3 separate regions of the Homo sapiens genome follow, and all the other regions are reported to be linked to region 2. Evidence: microRNA targets listed by miRTarBase, many of them from high-throughput screens and not tested one by one. Region 2 holds a microRNA gene; each other region holds the end of a gene's coding sequence.
What was found. Region 2 holds the annotated microRNA hsa-miR-605-3p (AGAAGGCACUAUGAGAUUUAGA, at 3,845-3,866, shown strand). A microRNA usually pairs through its seed, bases 2 to 8, with sites in the 3' UTR of a target mRNA and lowers its output. Matches are read on the target gene's strand: a 7mer-m8 pairs with bases 2 to 8, a 7mer-A1 pairs with bases 2 to 7 and ends in A, and an 8mer does both.

Region 1: the mRNA of FANCF is a reported target of hsa-miR-605-3p. Seed matches in the 3' UTR shown: 7mer-m8 at 762-768.
Region 3: the mRNA of PSMD11 is a reported target of hsa-miR-605-3p. Seed matches in the 3' UTR shown: 7mer-m8 at 5,224-5,230 and 7mer-m8 at 4,810-4,816.

What each region holds. Positions count from the first base shown.
Region 1 is chr11:22,618,208-22,625,371 of GRCh38, reverse strand. FANCF (FA complementation group F) reads left to right here. Exons shown (of 1, transcript NM_022725.4): 1 at 1-2,839. The coding sequence ends at 686. Among named protein-coding and RNA genes, the nearest start is that of FANCF, 4.0 kb to the left of the region's middle. RefSeq lists enhancers at 1-59, 440-489, 500-659.
Region 2 is chr10:51,295,779-51,302,976 of GRCh38, forward strand. It overlaps MIR605 (microRNA 605), which reads left to right and starts at 3,795; the gene lies at 3,795-3,877. All of the region lies in intron 2 of PRKG1 (protein kinase cGMP-dependent 1), which reads left to right.
Region 3 is chr17:32,479,684-32,486,881 of GRCh38, reverse strand. PSMD11 (proteasome 26S subunit, non-ATPase 11) reads right to left here. Exons shown (of 14, transcript NM_002815.4): 11 at 6,996-7,031; 12 at 6,685-6,736; 13 at 6,251-6,393; 14 at 3,563-6,129. The coding sequence ends at 6,251. Among named protein-coding and RNA genes, the nearest start is that of CDK5R1, 3.7 kb to the left of the region's middle. RefSeq lists a silencer at 1-529 and an enhancer at 602-1,103.

The DNA of each region.
Region 1 (7,164 bases), not on the chromosome of region 2:
GCTTCAATGGCTATAGAGAGAACCCAAATCTCCAGGAGGACTCTCTGATGAAGACCCAGGCGGAGCTGCTGCTGGAGCGTCTGCAGGAGGTGGGGAAGGCCGAAGCGGAGCGTCCCGCCAGGTTTCTCAGCAGCCTGTGGGAGCGCTTGCCTCAGAACAACTTCCTGAAGGTGATAGCGGTGGCGCTGTTGCAGCCGCCTTTGTCTCGTCGGCCCCAAGAAGAGTTGGAACCCGGCATCCACAAATCACCTGGAGAGGGGAGCCAAGTGCTAGTCCACTGGCTTCTGGGGAATTCGGAAGTCTTTGCTGCCTTTTGTCGCGCCCTCCCAGCCGGGCTTTTGACTTTAGTGACTAGCCGCCACCCAGCGCTGTCTCCTGTCTATCTGGGTCTGCTAACAGACTGGGGTCAACGTTTGCACTATGACCTTCAGAAAGGCATTTGGGTTGGAACTGAGTCCCAAGATGTGCCCTGGGAGGAGTTGCACAATAGGTTTCAAAGCCTCTGTCAGGCCCCTCCACCTCTGAAAGATAAAGTTCTAACTGCCCTGGAGACCTGTAAAGCGCAGGATGGAGATTTTGAAGTACCTGGTCTTAGCATCTGGACAGACCTCTTATTAGCTCTTCGTAGTGGTGCATTTAGGAAAAGACAAGTTTTGGGTCTCAGCGCAGGCCTCAGTTCTGTATAGGCAATGCTGTGTTATTACTTGAATATAGAATATATAGTTTACAAAATGAAAATTACAATGTTCTCACCAAATATATGCCTTCGTGTGTCCAAAGTATAATTATTTTAGATGCTAATTTTGAATAGTTTATTAAACAGTTATAAATATGCAAAGTAGCTGGCATGTAGTGTCACGGATTTTCTGGATAGAGGAAGTGATTGGAAGTACTCCACTTAAAGCCATGGAATTAGCAATAGTTTGCTTTTTAATAGAAGGCCCATTTGTAAGAATGTTGAAAATATGTGTACCGTTTAAAGAAAAAGCAGCTTTAAAGTGACAAACAAAATACCCTTTTTCTTTTAGTATGGTTTATTTTTCTAGGTTTTCTGTCCCTCCCTCAGTAGTGAAGAGTTTTCTTTATTCCTGGCAGTGTCAGGAATATTGGTTTGAAAAGCTGTTGGCCTATCTGGAGTTTGGCCTTGTTAACCTAGTATTCTAACCAGTTAACCAGCCTTAGTATGCATTAAAATTGTATTGTTCAGAAAGTTTGTTTCTCATTTTCTGCAAATTCTTACTTTGAAAATGAATCACCACATAGTATGTCCCTTTAAAGCATTGACGCACAGACAAATGTTTAAAGCACAGTAAATACGAATATATGCCTTTGGATATTAAATTAATGCTTGATGATAAAAGAATCAAACTTTTTTTTTTTTGAGATGGAGTCTCGCTCTGTCACCCAGACTGGAGTGCAGTGGTGTGATCACTGCTCAGTGCAACCTCTGCCTCCCAGGATCAAGCAATTCTGACTCAGCCTCCCAAGTAGCTGGGATTACAGGCGCAGGCCACCATGCCCGGCTAATTTTTTGTATTTTTAGTAGAGACGGGGTTTCACCATGCTGGCCAGGCTGGTCTCAAACACCTGACCTTGTGATCCGTCCGCCTTGGCCTCCCAAAGTGCTGGGATTACAGGCGTGAGCCACCGCGCCTGGCCAAAACAACATTTTAAGTAGAAGATCCAGGTTTTAGTGCAGCTTCTGCCGTTAACTAGGTTAATAAATCACAACCTTGGGGCCACAGTTGCCTTATATGTAAATGAAGTGTTTAGAATAAAATAGTTAAATTTCCTTATTTTTCCCTTGGTGGCTGCCCTGTGGAAACAGTTTAGAATATTTGTTTTGTGTGTAGGAACCTAGTTGTGTTAGTTTACCTGGGTGTTCCACAGCTGATAGTGATTGCCTTGAATAAATTCAAGGGCAATTTATTCATTTTTACTAGGGAGATAGACCTTTACAGCAATCAAGATATTTTTGTCCATATCCAGGTTAGCTGGTAAGAGGATTTTTTTGGAGAAAAAAATGATATTTAGAAAGTTAATTTCTAATTCCGGAATGGAATAAAAACAATATGAGTAGTGTAATCTTGTAGAAAAAGAGTTGTATAATCTTGTAGAATTTCTCATTCTGTGGTACAACCCAGGGGTAAACTATTATTCCAGTAGTCAGTACACTTTTCTAGATAAATCTTGAGTGAAAACCAGCAATTTCTTTTTCCTTGTGGTCTGATTCCTTTTTCTAATCCATGAAGGCCATCTTGTAGATTACATTTATCATTAATGCAAGAATAAAGACAATTCCTCCTGTCAGTTGCGTGAATTTTTTTTAAGAAACAACCCAGTGAAGAGTTCTACCATAGCAAGGCCTAATGTTAGCTTTAGCTTTAGAAAATAACAGTTTGTGAACTTACTTCCCTATATTTGCAGCTGTATCTCACACTATGATTTACAATAAAATTGTAAAGATTGACAATAGACTTAAGAAATAACATTTTAAAATCTATTTTATACTTACCATTTATTATTCTGTTATTTTAGTCTCCATATGTTCATTACATACATAATCTTATTTAATCTTCACACCAAAACTGTATTCTTATGAATATACGCTAAAAGATTAAGTAAAATGCCCAAGGGTATAAACAAAAGCAACATGAAAGTGGAAGCCGTATCTGTCATTTATTTTATTTCCAGAAGCCTAGCACAGTGTCCAGCATATGGTAGATACTTGTAGTGTTTGAATAAATGAAACCAGCATTAGAGCTTTATATACTTTCTCTTAAGGACTTGAAAAGATTAGGAATCTACGCATACACTGAGAGAGAAAAAAGTGAGAGGAAGACTATAAAAATAGAATATTTGATAACTTCTTTATAAAATCTAGAGATATTTATTTTGTGTTTTTTCCCTATGTCCTATCAAATGAGGGAGCACTATTGAAATCTCCCATTGTAACATTGTTTCAGGAAATTTTATCAATTATCATCTTATGTATTTTGAGCAATTTTATGACATGCAAACAAATATAGAATCGTTATATCATCTTAATGAATTGAACCTTTTGTTTGTAGTGACTGCTTTTCTGCTTTAAAGTCTATTTTTTTCTATTATCATTGTCATATATTAACACTGTATGATTGGACTTTTTCCTGCTATCCTATTTTGTGCTTTCCACTTCCTTTGATTTCTCTATGTTTCACTTCTCAGTTCTTTAATTGACTAAATATTTGTTTGTCTTCTTATTTCATGATATTTTCCCCTCTACCAGTTAGGATGTTAATTCTATACCCATGCTTTTACTCTCAAAACTTACCATATTTAACTTAAAAATATCTAATATTAGTATCTTAACCCTCCTTCTTAATGATACTATGGACCTTAGGAAACTTTAACCCTGATCTCTTATCTATAAACTCTCAAGTTATTATCCAGTGTTTTGGTTTAACAATTTTGTTTCCCATGATTGTACCTCAAATTCCCTTGGAGAAGGTCTCTTGGTGGTAAACTCAGTTTTTATTTACTAAGATCGTTCCTTGTTGTTGTTGGAAGGTAGTTTTGCTGTGTTCCTGATTTCAGGTTAACATGTTAAAGATATTAACTCTTTTCTGGTTTTCATTGTTGATAAGAAAGCTATTCGTCTACTTGTGGTTATTTTGTAGAGTGATTTCTTCTTTCTGTTTATTTTAAGGTGGTCCCGATTTCAGTATCTATAGTCACTTCAGAATATCTAATTGTAAATTTCTGTTTTTCTTGCTTGTTTTATGTTGTGTTTCATTTATGTGTGGATATGTGTTTTTCTTCATTCTGAAAAATTTCCAGCCATTTTTCCCCAATATTTCCTTTCTTCCACTTTTTAAAAATCATTCCTGTCACTTTGATCGGGCCTATATTAGATCTTAGATCTTCTCACACTACTCATATCATGTAACCGCTCTGTCCCAGTTTCTATCTCCATATCATTCTATTTTGCTTTGGAAATTGCTGTTATATCCCAAGATCAATATTCCCCATCTTCATTTTAGCCTACCACCAGGTTTTAGCTGAAAATGGCCACCCAGATAGAGAGTAAATTTCCCAATTTCTCCTACAGTTACATGTGGCGATAATGCTAGGTTTTGGTTACTTTTATATAAGCAGAAGTGATATGTACAACTTAATATTCATTCCCTAGAAATCTGAAGTTATTTGCCCTTAATACTCTGCTTCTCCCTTTTAATGGGCTAGAAAGTTAATTTGCTGCTAGTTTGCTGCTACCTTGAATCATATGGCTGAAGATGACTGGGACAATTGCTGTAGACCCAAAGATGAAGTCACATGTACAGAATGGCAAAACAGAGCCCACCTACCTAGCTTGTCCTGTTAATATAGGAGAGGAATACACCTTTCTCTTATGAACACTGCTCGGGATGTCTTATGTCATCAACATTGCCTATAACCCTAAGTAGTATTGGTATAGTCTTGATAATTCTGTCTGATCTGAGGTTTAAGCTATCAATTGGTTTTAAATTTCAGTGATTTTTAAAAAGTCTTATTTGGCTTTTTTTCTCCTAATATGCCTGTTTACCTTTTAGTAATCTCATATGGCATGCTTTTTGTGATTCTGTTTTCATTTTTTATCATTGTTATTTTATCATCTATTAATTATTTCACAACCTGAAGTATTGAGGATCTAAACCTATTCTGTTGATTCTCACTCATGACGGCTTATTTCTTTACATCTTTTGTAATTTCCTATTGTGTGTTCACATGTGTTTGGTTATACTCTATGTAAACCTAGGAGTCTAAATAGGGTATTCTTTGCCCAATGAGGGCATTTTTAAATGCTTCTGCTGGAGAAATAGAGAACCCCCCCTAACCTAGGACTACTTTGGTTTATTGTAAGAGTTTTGGCTTGAGTTTTTCTACCTTATGTCTTGCTCAAAGCATATTTTCTGAATCTTACTTGCTTACTACTCAGATCTCCCTGTTTTGGAGAAACAGATATGAAGGGGTGGCTTGGAAATTTCCTTTATTTTCTGAAATCCCAACAAAACATTCAAAGAATGTTATATTGAGAATCTATTTGTTTTGTAGCAGCTGGGCCCTGTGGAATATCTAGTTATTGATTTGCTAAAAGTGGAAGTCCTCTTTCCCTTTAACCCACACCAACCTAACTTCTGCCATCAACACTTCTCTGAAATAAGTCTTGTCAAGCTCACCAATCACCTGCATGATGCTAAATTCAAAGGACACTGTATTAGTCCATTTTTACACTGCTATAAAGAACTTCCCAAGACAGGGTAATTTGTAAAGGAAAGAGGTTTAATTGACTTACAGTTCCACATGGCCTGGCAGGCCTCAGGAAATTTACAATCATGGCGGAAGGTGAAGAAGAAGCAAGTACCTTCCTTACAAGGCTGTAGGAGAGAGAGAGAGAGAGAGAGAGAGAGAAGGAGGAAGTGGCACACTTTTAACTCATCAGGTCTCACGAGAACTCACTATCATGAGAACTCCCTACCACAAGAACAGCATGGGGAAAACTGTCCCCACAATCTGATCACCTCCCACCAGGTCCCTCCCTCAACACGTGGGGATTACAATTCAAGATGAGATTTGGGTGGGGACACAGAGCCAAACCATATCAGACACTTTTCTGGTATTCAGTTACTTGACTCTCAGCAGCATTAAATACCATGGCCTATCCCCTCTTTTTTGAAACTGGGCTTGGAATTCTATTCTTATAACTTATATGATACCACTCTATTCTAGTTTCCTCTTACCTCTCCAGCAATGTTTTCAGAGTCTATTTTTCTGGCTCCTCTTCTCCTAATCATCCTTTAAATATTCACGATTTCTCAGTGTTTAATAACTCTGCTGCCTCTTTTGTGTAGTGCTCTCACCCCGTGTGATCTCATCCATTTCTGTGGCGTTAAATACTACCTATATGCTATGAATTTCACAATTTATATCTTTAGTCTGGAGGTCTCATCATAGCTTCAGGACCAATATCCCCACTTGAATGTCTCACAAGCCTCTCAAACCAAACATCCAAACCAACTCTAAATATCAGGAAGAGGGTGGAGCAAGATGGCCGAACAGAAACCAATCATTCCCTTGCCTCCCCAGCAAGGACACTGAGTTAACATATGTACACAGAAAAAACATCTTCATAGCAACCAAAAATCAGGTGAGAACTCATAGTATCTGGTATTAACTACATATTGCCAAAAGAGGTACTGAAGTGATTAAAAAACAGTCCTGAATCACAAATGCCACCCCTTCCTCACCCCAGGCAGCAGCAGCCTCTGAGCACTGGGGGAGGGAGAACACAGCAATTGTAAAGCAGTGAACTCAGTGCTGTCCTGTTACAGCAGAAAGGAAAACTGGACCACACTCATCCTTCCCACAGAGGGAGAATTTAAACCAGCCCTAGTGGGAACCTGAATTCCTGCAACTCTCACCACCATGGGCTAGAGGCTACGGCACTCTGTGTCTCCAAGTAAACTTGAAAGGCAATCTAGGCCATAAACTCTTAGGCAAGTCCTTGTGTTGAGTTAGGCCCATAGACAATGGACTGGAAGGGCACACGGCATACAGATAAACCAGCTGGGGCAGCCAAGGGAGTTCTGTCGTCACTCCTCCCCTAACCTCAGGTGGCACAGCTCATGACTCCAAAAGAGACCCTTCCCTTTCACTTGAGGAGAAGAGAGGGAAGAGTGGGGAGGACTTTGTTTTGCCTGTAGGATCCCAGCCCAGCCACAACAGAATAAGGGACTGGTCAGAGTAGTGAGGCCCCTGTTCCAGACACTACCTCCCAGGTGACATTTCTAGATACACTCTGGGCCAGAAGGGAATGGAACCTGCTGCCTTGAAGGAAAGGACCCACTACTGGCAGCATTTATCACCTGCTAACTGAAGAGCCCTTGGGCCCTGAATAACCAACAGTGATACCCAGGCACTATATCAAGGGCCTTGGTGAGCCTCTGAGATTTGCTGGCTTCAGGTGAGACTCTGTACATAACCAGCAATGGTGGCTAGGGGGCAAAAATCTTCTACTTAAGAAAAGCTGAGGGAAAAGTAAAGGGGACCTTTTTTCCCACATGTTGGGTACCAGCAAGGGGAGGAAGGGACTAAGTGTGATCCTGAGGTCTTTGATTCTAGGACTTGACTCTTGGATGAATTTTT
Region 2 (7,198 bases):
TTCCTCAATGATTATTATGTTAGCTGTGGGCTTTTCATGTATGGCCTGTATTGTGTTTAAACAATTTCCTTCTATACCTATTTTGTTGAGAGTTTTTATCATGAAAGAATGATGAACTTTGTCAAATGCTTTTTCTGAATCTATTGAGATGATCATATTGTTTTTGGCCTTCATTCTGTTAGTGTGGTGTATCACGTTGATTGATTTCCTTATGTTGAGCCATCTTTACACCCCAGGGATAAATACCACTTGGTCACGGTGTATGATCCTTTTAATGTTCTGTTGAATGCTGTTTGCTAGTATTTTATTGAGGATTTTTGCATCAGTATTTATCAGGAATATTTGCTTTTAGTTTCCTTTTCTTGTTGTATCTTTGTCTGGTTTTGATCAGGATGGTCCTGGCCTCATAAGATGAGTCTGGAAGTGATTCCTCCTATTTTATTTTTTTGGAAGAGTTAAAGAAGGATTGTTATCAGTTCTTCTTTGATTGTCTATTAGAATTCACCAGATGAGAAGTCATCTCATCCTGAGCTTTTCTTTTTTGAGACACTTTTGATTACGGACTGAAATAAATGTCTTCCTTGTGCAGTTTGTCTACACTATCCTATTTCTTCTTGATTCAGCTTCAATAAGTTGCATATTTGTAGAAATTTATTTATTTCCTTTAGGTTATCCAGTTTGTCAGCATATAATTGTTCACAATAGTCCCTAATGATACTTTTCATTTCTGAGGCATCCATTGTAATATCTTCTCTTTGATTTCTGATTTTATTTATTTGAGTCTTCTCCATTTTTTCTTATTAGCCTAGCTGAGTTTGTTGATTTTGTTGATGCTTTCAAAAAATCAACTCTTGTTTATGGATTTTTTTATTGTTGTCTGTTTCTTATTTGATTTACTTCTCTAATCTTTATTAATTCCTTCCTTCTGATAATTTTAGGTTTAGTTTCTTCCTCTTTTTCTAGTTCCTTGAGGTGTAAAGTCATGTTGCTTATTTGAGAATGTTCTTTCCTAGTGTAGGCATTTATGTTGTATTTTTGTTTTCATTTGCTCTGAAATTAAACCTAGTTACATTGCCGCCTCTGCTTTTCCATGTTTTCTTTAGTCTGCTTTTTAGCTTTACCTTTGTCTATTCTTTCCCTCTTTATTTAAGATCTCTTAACTTGAATAAATATAACAGAGTGAACAGTGAAGGGGTTATTTCATTCCTTTTGGGAGGATATTCCTCTGTTTTAACCTTGGCTTCTAGGACTGACTGGTCATAAAAGGAAACAATAAATGCAAAGCATTGAGTCCAAAAGTGGAGAAAAGCCACAGTTCATCTTCCCTGGCAATAATATGATAGTATTATTTTAAGATTCAGTGAATTCTGTTCTGCGAGCTGTAAGATTGGTTGATTTGTAATAGGGGGAAAAAGGGCATGTTGTGGGGAGGGTAGACATTTAGAGAAAGTAAATGACCTTGAGGGTATTGAACTCTGTGAATCAACTTGTTCTCTAAAGTTAGGGGACATACCACTTCTAGATGGTGAACCTGTGGGTGTTCATTTGAACAGTAGAGTCATAGAAAAACTTTACTATCTGGAATATAATAAAAATGCTGCTTTAACTGCTAAGTCGCCATCTGTTACCAGCTCTTTGCTACTGGTTTATCTTTTTTCCTTTTAAAACGTGAATTCTTGGATTTTCATATTATAATTTTATACTTACCTTAAATTAGGATTGAGAGGAAACTTTGACAACACCTCTTAAAAGAAAATTATTAACTTGTAAAAATCATACTTTTAGGTTTGGGTAATAGCTGGGGAGAAAGCAAAAGCAAATCAGGAAGCTTGTAGGTGACTCATGTGCATTTCTATGTATGAGCAACAGGAATGGTAGAACTTTTGTTCCACTGCAGTTGTACAATCTAATTATTCACTGATCAATCTACACATACTGCATTACTATGTAGGTTTTAAGATGGCATCTTTGCCATATGTCTCTTTTTTAACCTTGATATCTTACATGTAATAGGTTTTCATCAGTTTTGATGAAATCATGATGATAATGATTACGATAATGCCTCCCATTATTTTCTCTTTAGTATAAGGCATTTAATGGCTTTTCCTAAAAAATAATGCAAGCAGTTCTTAACCCTAACAATGAGGGATAGAGTAGGTGTCCTTACCTACACTTGTTACTATAAGTGATATATTTATATAAAGAGATGTATGTAAAGGAAATTCATTCACTCATTCATTTATGTACCTAACCATTATTCCTTCATCAGTTCTTGTTAAGCACTTACTATATTAGGCCCTGTATACATTTTACATGAATTATCTCCTAACCTTATAACAATGGTGTGTAAAGAAACTAATATTATCCATTTTATAGATGATAAATTCATGATTAGGGATATTAATTATGATGTCCAAATTTGCACAGGTGGCAAATGATACATTTGAAATCTGAACCCACACAATCTAATTCAAGAGTTACATTGCCACTACTTCAAAAAATGTGGTTTATTTTATAGGCAAAGAAAAGGCACTGAATTGAATATTATGACTAAGCTTGTGATCTTAAAAGATTTAGGTTCTGAGTTGGACCTGATTAAAAATTCCAGCTCCACCAATTACTGATTACATGAACCTGGTGGGAGTTGTTCAGTCTTTCCATACTCCAGGTTCTTCCTTTTTCAACAGTGTTGCTGAGCCATTAAATGAAACAGCTTTATGTAGAAAGCACTCAGCATAGTAAAATCATTATAAATGTTAGCTATTACACACTTACTTCTCTCCTTTTCTGGAGGAAGGGAGAAGATGGGTTTTTATTTTACAATCTTATTTTATAAAACTATAAGCCTGGAGTCTAGGGGGTAATGTAGGAATTGAAATATGAAATGGTTCTGATCTAAGGTAGAAACATTAGATGGATGAAAGAATATCATGCCGATAGAATTAAAAATTGTTAGGTTGGAGTATTTTATGTGGGCTGAGAGTAAAATAAATCTACAATTTGTGTGAGTGGTAGAATGTGAAGCGATTAAATAGGATAGGGAATTGGAAGGGAAGTGCTAGGACAATTCCTGGCACATAGTAGGCATGCAACAAAAGGTTGGAAGCTTGATTGCTGTGATCTGTATGCAAAGATCATATGGTTGCATAAATGTGTTAATATTGTTCTTTGGTAAGTGTTTTCCTGGTATTTAAGTGCAATGGAGCACAAAGGTTTGTTGTCTAAAGTGTAATAATGAAAGGAATATGACCATTACTCCATCTGTCATTTTCACTCATGCCTTTAAATGAGCCCTTTGCTCCAATAAAATGGTTCAGTTAATGGTTCCTTAAAGCCACACACACTTACCTGTCTTTTTGCCTTTGATGAATTTATTGCTTAAGACTTTAGCCAGTATCTCTTTTTGCCCATTCTTTTTATCTGTATTTATTTTTATATGTTTTTTGAGATGGAGTCTCACTGTGTTACCCAGGCTAGAGTGCAGTGGTACGATCTCGGCTCACTGCAACCTCCGCCTCCTGGGTTCAAGCAATTCTCCTTCCTCAGCCTCCTGAATAGGTAGGATTACAGGCATCCTCCACCATGCCTGGCTAAGTTTTGTAATTTTAGTAGAGATGGGGTTTCACCATGTTGGCCAGGCTGGTCTTGAACTCCTGATCTCAGGTGATCCACCCACCTCGGCCTCCCAGAGTGCTGAGATTGCAGGTGTGAGCCACCATGCCCCGCCTCTTTTTGCTCATTCTTTAAAGTAGGAACTTTGGTAGAACTTTCACAGCCTGTAACATATGTCTCTAGCCCTAGCTTGGTTCTAAATCCCATGGTGCCTTCTCCTTGGGAAAAACAGAGAAGGCACTATGAGATTTAGAATCAAGTTAGGACTGCAGATACAGGTTACCTATGTTACAGGCTGACAGCCACAGGTATATTGCTCTCTGCACATGTGTTTTTTCCTGGCCTCTCAATGACATTATAAGCTTCTATTATACCTCATGTGGCGTAACTGCTCTGCAATAATAGAAATTCAATAAAGGACTCTTTAATTTACAATTAAAGTCAGGATTGAATTTTGTGGAAAATCTTGATGCAAATGTACAAAAGAACTTCAAGAAAATTAGAATGCCATGAGTCATGCATTTCCTGGTACTATTCATTCTTCTTTAGGTACTATCATTCTGCTCAACCTAACATTTCTACCACCTACACCTACCATCTGGAATTATAGGCAGAGGGTATGAAGGGTGTCAAATCTTGAAAGAAAATTGCCTTTTCTCCAAAGTTGATGAAACTAAACCACAGTTGATTGGATTACTTGCTCAGCAAGAGAGTAGAACCTTGTCTTTATGAATTAAATGTCACTATTTCGTCTATTTGAAGATGACCTTATAGAGGATCATGGCTTACGACAAGTTATTTTGCTGAGGCTTGAATTTGAATTGTGTGTTGGTGAATGAGGCACTGCACACACAGTCAGAGCAGCTGCTCTCCATGCAGCTTTTCTTCTCTTTGGTTTTCTGTATCATACACAGTAATCCTTGGGTGTTATTCACATCTACTTCTTGTGGAGTAATAGTATATTATAGTGGTATCATAAATTCGGGATTTATGAAAGTTGTGGGACATACCTTCATGTGAATCTCAGTGGGTTACTGTATTTAATGATTTTTTCTCTTTTGTTTTGATTAAGAAGCTCTTTGCTGGGATGCTGAGTTCCGATTTAAATATTATACACCCTTCTTATTTCTCTCTGCAAAATTATAGCCTTGCTGATGAATTTTGCTTTACTCTTGAGTGTGGTTTACTTTTGCAGCAAATACAAATTTAGTAAGTTAAATCTAAAAGCCACAGTTAAACACAGTTCTCCTTCAGAGGTAAGAACCATAACTGTTTCTGTGGACCCCAGCAATGGTACCTTCTTTTACAAAACAATGTTCTTCTTGTTCCATAGTCAATTACACACTGAACCTCTGTGTTATCTGAGATCTAAGCAGCAGGGCTGCTCTCTCCAGAATTATATTCAGCAGCTGTCTCCTCCCTGTTAGCTTACCCATTCCTGATGTGTTGATTCCTTTCAGAAGGCTCCAATCCAAATAAGACTTAATTAGCAGCAGCCTGAAAATAGTGTGTCTGCCTTTCTTTTCCTGTATAAATCTTGTGAGTGCTAAGCTTCTAATTTCACTTTCCTCTTAATACTAACTGAAGGTCCCATAACTTTCTGTGGAATGTTGACTTTTTTTTTGAGTGAGATGAGCTCTTCTCATGCCAGTTAACTCTCATGTCGGTGACAGCACAATGGAGAAATATTAGGAAATCTGACAGGGAGAAACATTCATGTCTGATAGAGTCCAGCAACAGATTAGTGAAAGAAACTGGCCGTCCAAAATCATCCTCATTCATTTCCTTCACTAAGTCAAAGAAATCATTGTGCTCTGCTTAAGCCCCATGCTGAGTTCATTTTACTGACCCTTCCTTAATATTGGCTGAAGGGTATTTTTAATAACTTGGTATGTTTGGGAGTCAAAGGAGGCCAAGTTTCTGGCTAGGCTCAGAAGGGATAAAATAGTAATGGAATGTTTGGGGAATGAGAGGGAAAAAAAATGCCTAAAAGAAAGGTACCTTCTTTTAGACCTGTTTAATATAACTCCCCTAATTATTTCTGAAGTAGGGGAAAAAATATACAAAACCCTCTGAGGAATATCAATTTTTAAACATTACAGCCTTGAGTGAGCCACTTCAAAATGTGCAGAGAATTGGCTTATATTTTATTTGGAAACTAATGTTTAAGTCAAATGGAGCAACAGAAATCCATAGTAATCTATCCAAAAAAGAAAGACCAAAGGATTGGGAATAGGTCAGGGTGCAGTCAGGAGAGCCAGGCGAGGGATGGCAGTCAATGGAAGCCAAGCTGGCCCAGTCAGTCTGTGGGCATGTGAGCTGAATCACCAGTGTGGGGACCACTTTCCCGTAAGAAGCCCTGTTGTAATTGATCCTGTCTCCTGAGCCTCCCCGGCTGCCACTGGACATTGCAGGTTTGGCTTCCTGGCTATTGGTTTTGCAGTCAGAGGAGTTCAGTTCAGTTTAGTGTGTTGAGTATGAGCAAAGCAGTATGAGCCGTGAGGTATCAGGATGAGTGTGTGACTGCCTTCTCTTCTCATGTGTCATCTGTGTGAATTCTTCCCATGTATCAGCCTCTTCTAAGACGTGACCTTAACTAGTCCAGTTCCTGGTGCTCTGACCTCTCTCAAGCTACTTCACTCAGAGTGCTGATCAAATGGTTTGGAACCACAGTGTTAGCTATGTCCTTGTTCCATTTAGTCTGTAAATCCACTGAGGATGTATCTTATACTTCTTTTGAAATACACTCCGCCATTAGCACATTGAGGAGCACTACTAGGGGTTTAATTGACACCTGTTGATTGACTGGTACGTTAATTAATGTAGGGCCTTATAAGCATGTCTTCCAGAGACGTTTAAAAACTTTTATTCAAATTGTATATAACATCTACTTGACAAACATTTTTAGTAAACGTGATAATGTAGAAACAGAATTATTCCCTGTAAAATATTATTCATTTTAGTAATTTGAGATAAAGAGTTATTTGCTCACTAGATTTTATTCACTTGGCACCTGTTTATTAAGTGCCTATGGTGTGTCATAAGCACTGATGATGTAATTGAGACCTAATAATAGCCTAGGAAAGTATGAAAAAATATGAATATCTTCAATGTTGGTTCTTTCAGGCCAATATTTTTAAATGACTCATTGGTAGCAAAACATCACTTTTTTTTTTTTTTAACGAGCAGATATTTATAACTGCTACCAAAACCAGGAATAGTTTACTAAATATGGGGGTTTGAAGATATTGTCTTTAGCTGGGAAAAGCTTCCAGGCTACAAGAGAGGATAAAGACAGTGAGTAACATTTGAGATGTACTTTATTTCATTACCTAACAAACACCTATCCAGCACTCACAATGGACAGGCTGTCTTCCAAGCAGGAAAAGATTATGGAGCATATGCTGTACATATGACCTCATTTAATCACTATAGTAAGTCTATAAAGAAGGTACTATTATTATCCTCCTTTTTAAAATAGGGAACTTGAAACTCTATTTTACAGTTAAAGTTCAGAGAAGTTAAGTATTTCACCCAAGGTCACACAGCCTGTGCGGTGGAGCTTCTTGCAAGAGTATTTTGGCCC
Region 3 (7,198 bases), not on the chromosome of region 2:
CCTCCCTCGCGGGGCGCGCGCGCCGTCCACGCTCCGGCCTGGTCTCGCCGGGGAGTCGCGGCCGTTGGTGTCCTCAGCTCGAGCCGCGCACGGTGCGGGTAGGACGCGGCAACGAGCGGGAGGCACCTCTACGCGCCGGGCCCCATCTAGGAGCCGGACTCCGCGGCTGCGGCGGGACACGCGGCGTCGGCCCGCCCCGCCCCTCGGGGCCGCCCCTCCCGCACAGCTCGCCGCCCGCTCCGCGCCGCCGCCCAACAGCAGCCCGGCCGCCGGAGAGTCCTCGGCGCCCGCGCAACCCAACTCTGCCGACGCGGGGCGGGCGCCGAGCAGGGCGGAGCCGAGGGCCGACCCCGCCCGCGTCCCGCCCAGACACGTGCTGCCTTTGTTCCCGCCGCGGCGCCCGCAGCTGCCGGCCGCGGGGGCACTCTCGGCCGAGTCCCTGCCCTGGCAGCGCGCGGCCCGCCCTCTCTGAGGCTGCCGCCCTGGCCTGGTGAGGAGCCCTCCGCCGAGGCCAGGGTCCGGAGCTCCCTCCTTCCACCTGACATCCCCGTCCCTGTGGAAAGCAGCCAGGGAGCGCGGGGAAGAAGGCCCTGGGCGGGGAGAGGCGACGCCTTTACTGAGGCCTCCCGAGTGCCACGCGCACCTCGAGTGGACAGTCCAATCGGTTCTGGCCACCCCTCCGGGGCCTCCGTTCCCTCATCATGGGTAGATGACCGCGGCCGAAGTGGGCCTCAGAGATCCAAGCCAGAGAAGCGTGGCCCGTAGCCAAGCCTGAGCCCGTCACAAATATGACCTCTAAGTTCCCACTCGCCCTCTTATTTGTCATATTAAAGCTGAAGCAACTGCCCCTCCGGCCAGCTTTCTGACCCTCTTAAACGTTTTCAATTCTAAGTATGTATAATTTGAGAACTTGATGCTAGCGAAATTGAGTAAAATTCTGTTTCTGAAAGCTGTTCCTGTCAGATGTGAATCCAGATCCTTCACAAAGGCTGTTGTTCATTTACTATTTTACCTTGTTTCTGGAGATCGAGTCAAAACTGACCACAAACCTGGGAAACAGGAAACTTAAGCCCTGTCTTAATCCAGATTATCTCTGGACCTAGAGATGAGGGAGTGGCTCTCCAGAGGAGAGGATGCCACCCAGTTACCTGACCACTCCAGCCGACTAGGCTTTCACCAGCCCTGTCAACTGTCCTAGGGGGAACAGAAAGGGAATCTGGCATCATTCAAAATGGTGCAATCAAGGCAGAAAGTGCTGGGTTTTGTTTATGTGCCACTCAGATTTCTGTCAATAGGAATTCCAGGCTTTAGGAACCTTGGGGGGCAAGGCATACAGTGGAAAATGCATTGCTCTGTACCCAGAGGGCTACTTTGTCCACAGCCTTTCAGAACATCCACAACAGCTGTTATGGGAACTCAGAAGAGGAAGGCAGGCCCCCAGCTCAGTGCGCCCCTCCCTGTGAATGTTCCTCAGTGTACAAGCCTACCTGCTCTTCAAATGGAGCTGTCCTCAACCCTCCTGCATGTAACAGTAAGAAGCCAGAAGAGGCCGACGCAGTGGCTCATGCTTGTAATCCCAGTATTTTGGGAGGCCGAGGCGGGTGGATCACCTGAGGTCAGGAGTTCGAGACCAGCCTAGCCAACATGGTGAAACCCCGTCTCTACTAAAAATACAAAAAAAATTAGCCAGGCGTGGTGGCAGGCACCTGTAATCTCAGCTACTCAGGAGGCTGAGGCAGGAGAATCGCTTGAACCTGGGAGACAGAGGTTGCAGTGGGCCGAGATTGCACCATTGCACTCCAGCCTGGGCAACAAGAGCGAAACTCCATCTCAAAAAAAAAAAAAAAAAAAAAAAAAAAGCCAGAAGAAACGATTTGCTTCGAGACCCTGACCAAGTGTCCCTTTTCCTTCTCAAAGGAAAGCCGAACCCCAGCCTCTTTTCCTCAGCCCTTACTTGGAGCCTCTAGCTCCTGAGTTGGCTCTGTGCCCCCCTTCAGATTCTAGTGTTGAGCCAAGGTTAAATGTTTTCCACTTCCCAAAATATGTCCAAATTTTGAAGCCTATAATCCACCCCGGCCAGGCGTGATGGCCACACTGTGTCCAGCAGTTTCAGAGGCCAAGGCGGGCGGATCACCTGAGGTCAGGAGTTTGAGACCAGCCTGGCCAACATGGTGAAACCCGTCTCTACTAAAAAAATTAGCTGGGCGTGGTGGCGGGTGCCTATAATCCCAGCTACTCGGGAGGCTGAGGCAGGAGAATAGCTTGAACCCGGGAGGCAGAGGTTGCAGTGAGCTGAGATTGTGCCACTGCATTCCAGCCTGGGTGACAGAGTGACACTTCGGCTAAAAAAAGAAAAATCCACCCCCTAGAAAAACCTGGGCCCACTCTGTTACCTTTAACTCTCAATCTCAATTCTAGCTATTCCAATTCACGGGGAGGCGGACCAAGCTCACCCCACTACCCTGCTTCCCACTCTGCAGCAGCATGCCTCTGCATGGGCCTTTTCAAGCCAGGCCATACCCTGTGTCTTCTCACCTTTGTCCAGCCAGCCTTTCCCTAGCACCTTCAAACAGAGCTCTCGGCAGAACACCAGCCTCCTCACACTTGCCCAAGGCAAAGTCACAGTTGCAGCACAGCAGGAATGGGATGGCACTGGCAGCCCACTTGCTGCTGCGACTAAGGGAGGGGTCTCCAGGAGCTCCTATCACCCAGGCCATGCCTGTTATGCTGGTTTTCAGACACCACAGAGCTCCTCTTTTCATTCAACCCACCACCACCTCCCCACCCCCAGTTCCTATCACTGCTCCAACTGGAAGCAAGGAAGAAAGGACAGTCAACTGCCAGAAATGGCAGAACCAAGGACCCAGAAGGCAGACCCAGTTGAATGAGGCAGAGCTGTTTTCTTCCTAGCTGCCTTCATCATAGAACTGCAGGGAAGATTTCCAAATCCCACCCCCATCAATCAGCCTACTTAGCCTATTGCCTATCTCTAGCTGCCTGAAGGGCCAGCCTGCTTGTTAGCTTCCCTGCTGGGCTGGGCTGCCCGTGGACTGCCGGAGAGTCCACTCTTCCTGCATGCCCCACTTCCCATAGCATCCCGAGGGAGGGAGGTCAAGGCGGGGGCCAGCTACAGCTTCCAAGAAGGGTTCCAAATAGAGCAGGCCTGAGCCCTTACTCCTGAGGAAGTCGGCTTTGTTCTTTCAGGGATCACAGAGCAGCATCTAGTGGCCCTTCTGAGCAGCACAGATTACATAACTAGCACACAGCAGGGGACCAGAGCCTCTGCTCCCAACTCCAGTAGAGTCTCATTAACACACAAGAAAGTCCTGGCACCATGAAGGCTGGAGCCCAGAAGGGAGGTGAGGGAGCCGGGCCCAGGCCAGCCCACCGGCCAGCTGACCTTCCCAGCTGTGCCTGGACTCAGGTCATGAGAGGCCTGGGAGAGGAGGCAGTGACACAACTGCTGGTCCTGGAGGTCTAGAGCTGCGCTGTCCAGATAGAAGCCACATAGGTAACTTTATATTTTCTAGCAGCCACATTACACAAGTAAAAGGGAAACAGGTGAATTTTAATAATATATTTTATTTAACCCAATACCCAAAATATTTCAACACATATATAAAAAAGTTATTGACATATTTTACACTCCTTTTCTTTTGTTATCATACTAAGCCTTCGAAGTCTGGTTTGTGTTTACACTTGCAGTGTATCACAGCTCGAACCAGCCACGTTGCAAGGGCCTGACAGCTGCACATGGCTAGCGGCTACATATTGGACAGCACGGGTCTAGAGGGCATCATCTGACCAAGACCCGCAAAGGGAACTGAGAAAAGGGCTACTGCCTGAGCATCTCAGGACTGCCCTAAGTTTGAGAAAACATCTCCCCTCTACTCCAAAACTAGATCTCTTTGGAGTACTTTTTAAAGTCCTTTATAGAAGCAAAGCTCTTTCTGCAAGTGAAATACAGAGACACAATACTAAAACTGACAATGGCTGAACTGCTCAGACTGAAGAGGATTTAGCAGGTCCCCCAGTGGTCCCAGAGCCCCCCGCCCCCGCCAGGGTGTGAGGCAATATGAAAATCGCTGCCTTTGAAGATTCCAAAAGGAAACGAAACCACAACTGCATGTCAGGACTCTCCAGACACCTGCACGTCTATGACTTACTAAGCTTCACATCACAATCACCTGCCAAGGAAGCAGCATCCTCACTGAGTAGAAGAGAAAGTAGGCTCAGAGGATCTACTGCCCAAACTTACATGTGCTCACTGGACCATGCTGCCCTGGAAGAAGACACCTGAACTCATTTCCAACCTCAGAACTCACACACCAACTTTCTTGCCCCCAAAGCCCTCCAAGTTTGGACCCCAAATTTACCTTAAGGACTCCCATTACACAAATGAGATAACAGCTTTGGCCAGATGAGAGCTAGACTAGTGTGGGGCCACACAGAGCTGTCTGGACTTGCTTGGAAGCCCTCCAGCACTCAAGAAAAAGACACCTTTTGAAAAAAAAAAAAATTATTTTTATTGGAACTCATCTGAACATCAGATATACCTGGTGTTGGTTAGCAAGAACCGTTTGTACATTTGATACTGATGGTGCCAAAACCAAAACAGTGACTAGACATGATGGGGAAAGATGTTGAGAACAAAAACCTGATTTTGGAGAGGAAAATAAAAGCCAGTCAGATTCAGTGAGGATGCAAAACCTGGTACAACAAAATCCTTTTACAAAATATAAATTTATTATGAAAACCTGGAAGGATAATCCAAGGAAGGTAAAGAAAGAGAAAAGGAGGCCAGCAGAAGAAGGCAGGAAGGAGAGGAAAAGAGAAAAAGACAAAGAGGAGATGAGAGAAGAAAATACAGTTCAGCACAACAGAAGTGCAGAAGCTCACCTACCCAAATGGCATTAAAGCCTCGCTGTGTAATCGTGTCAGAAAACAAAGCATACTGACACATAGTGCTCTACTTCCCATCCACTTGAGTTCTAAGAGGTAAATTAAAAAGCTCCCTGGGAAGGGGACATGAGGTTGCTCAAAAACCCAACAAAGAAAATTAAAAAAAAAAGAGAGAGAGAAACCACACCCCACAGTCTCATTTCCGATGTTCATTGTTTAAAAAAGGAATAAATCCATCTGAAAGTAGGAGAGGAGGAGTGGGAGAGGGAGAGAAGCTCATGGCTTTCACAGACAGCCTGACTCCCCTGGAGGGGAGAGGAGGAAGGCAGAGAGACATGATGGTCTCCTGGTTGAGAGGGGAAAGAGAAGGGACAGAGAGGAAAGAAGAGAGGAGAGGAATGCAGGAGAGGAGAAGAGGGGCAATTAAAACACTGACGACTAATCTAGTTTACTGTGTTTAAAAAAAAAAAAAAAGCCACATGCATAGCAGGCCCCTTGGGGGCTAAGGGCCCACACTGCTCCCTGTGTGGCCGTGGTAGACACTAGCTCCTGGCCTCATCCCCATTCCTTCACAGGTCAGAGTGGAGCTATGCAGGCGCTGCTGCTGCTGCTGCTGTTGTTGCTGCAGTGGTGGTGGTGGTGGCGGCGGCGGCAGGACCTTCGGCTACTCTGCTGGAGCCAATGTGGGGAGGGAAGGGCAGACAGGCCGTATGGTAGGGGAAAGAACACCAAAATGCCTCATTTCAAATAAAAAAGAAAACAGCAGTCTATACACAGTTGTTTGTTTTGGTTCAGTACAAACAGAATAAAAAGTCATTGCTTTTGATGGTCAGCAAACACCCAATTCTGAGGAGGAGGAGAGGTGATGCCCAGCAGGTGGATTAGGACCCCCAGTGGTTGGCGGGGTGCCTGGCTTTGCGGCCCTCTCCCAGGAGGCAGAGAGCACAGCTTTAGGTAGTGTAAGCCTTTTTCCTTTTATTTAGAATAATCTTTTTTTTTTTCTTTTTCTTTTTTTTTAAGCAATTTCCCCACTCCCAAGTTGGGCCAGTAAAGATTACATGAAAACTGGCACACCTATTGGCTGGAATACAGATGCACCAAATGAGGATTTAAAAACTTTCCGAGCGAAAAGTAGAACAAAAAGAAAAAAGAATCTCCTAGCATTTTCCCCCAAGGTTTCACTCTCCCGCCACACACACTCTCCAAAGGACCGCTACAGATCCAACTCTGCAAGAGAAGACAGAGCAGTGTCAATCAGGAAGCCATGAGGACACCAGGAGGAGGTTTTCAGTCTCGACACGCAGAAGACAGAGCTGCCCAGCCCTGGGGTCCTGAAGCCAGCACTCACCTATGTCAGTTTCTTGGCTTTGTTGTAGAGGGAATCCACTACTTTGCTCATGTTCTGAATTGTTTCCAGAGCAGCTTCGTAAGTTTTATCTACTGGGGGTTCATCGAAAATAATCAGGACACCCTCCCCCTGGTCCAAAATCCCTGCAAGAAACACAAGGGCAACCCAGGTAAAAGATGAGGTTAGACACAAAAGTGTTTGTGAAGCAGCCCACTCCCTAGTTGACTCACTGTGTCCAGAAAAGAAGGGAAATAGAATTCATCTCCCTATTCCATGTACACATGCTTATTACACATTCTCATCACAGGGAAGAGGGGCCAGGACCCCAGGGTGAACCATCGGGGGAAACAAATAGAACATCTTCTTTGAAAATAAACTTCTTCAACCATCTCATCACCACCACCAGCCCCCTTGCCTGTGTGACTGTTACTTACCATGAAATTTCTTGTCAAGAATCATCTGTGATAATTTCCTTTCCACGTCGGCCTAAAATCAAAGCACATGATTAAAGGGACCAGTATCCACTAGTCAGAGATCACCCTGACACAGTAGCTTTGTTGGAGGGGTCTTAGGCCAAATGGACTGAAAACAAAATAGCAACAATGCAACTCCTACTCTAGTCCACACTGCCCATTCCCCACTGAGAAGCTGGGGAGCTTTCCAATGAGGCCAATCAGGTGCATGTGCCACCCCTCCTCGCCACCCCGTCCCATTCCTCCCTGCAGATGGCCTTAAGACTCCTTACCTTGGAGAGTTTGATGAGACTAGATATGTGTTCAATCTAAAAGGAAAGGCAGAGAGACACCAACACTGAAAGTTTTACTTTTGCCTCCAATAAGAGAAGGGAGGGAACAGGGGGAGAACTGCTGTATTTCTCAAAATTCTAATGTAAGACCCTCCTTGGCCGTGCTTAAGTCTCTTGTTCTCTGCCCATCTGCCTGCCCTTCA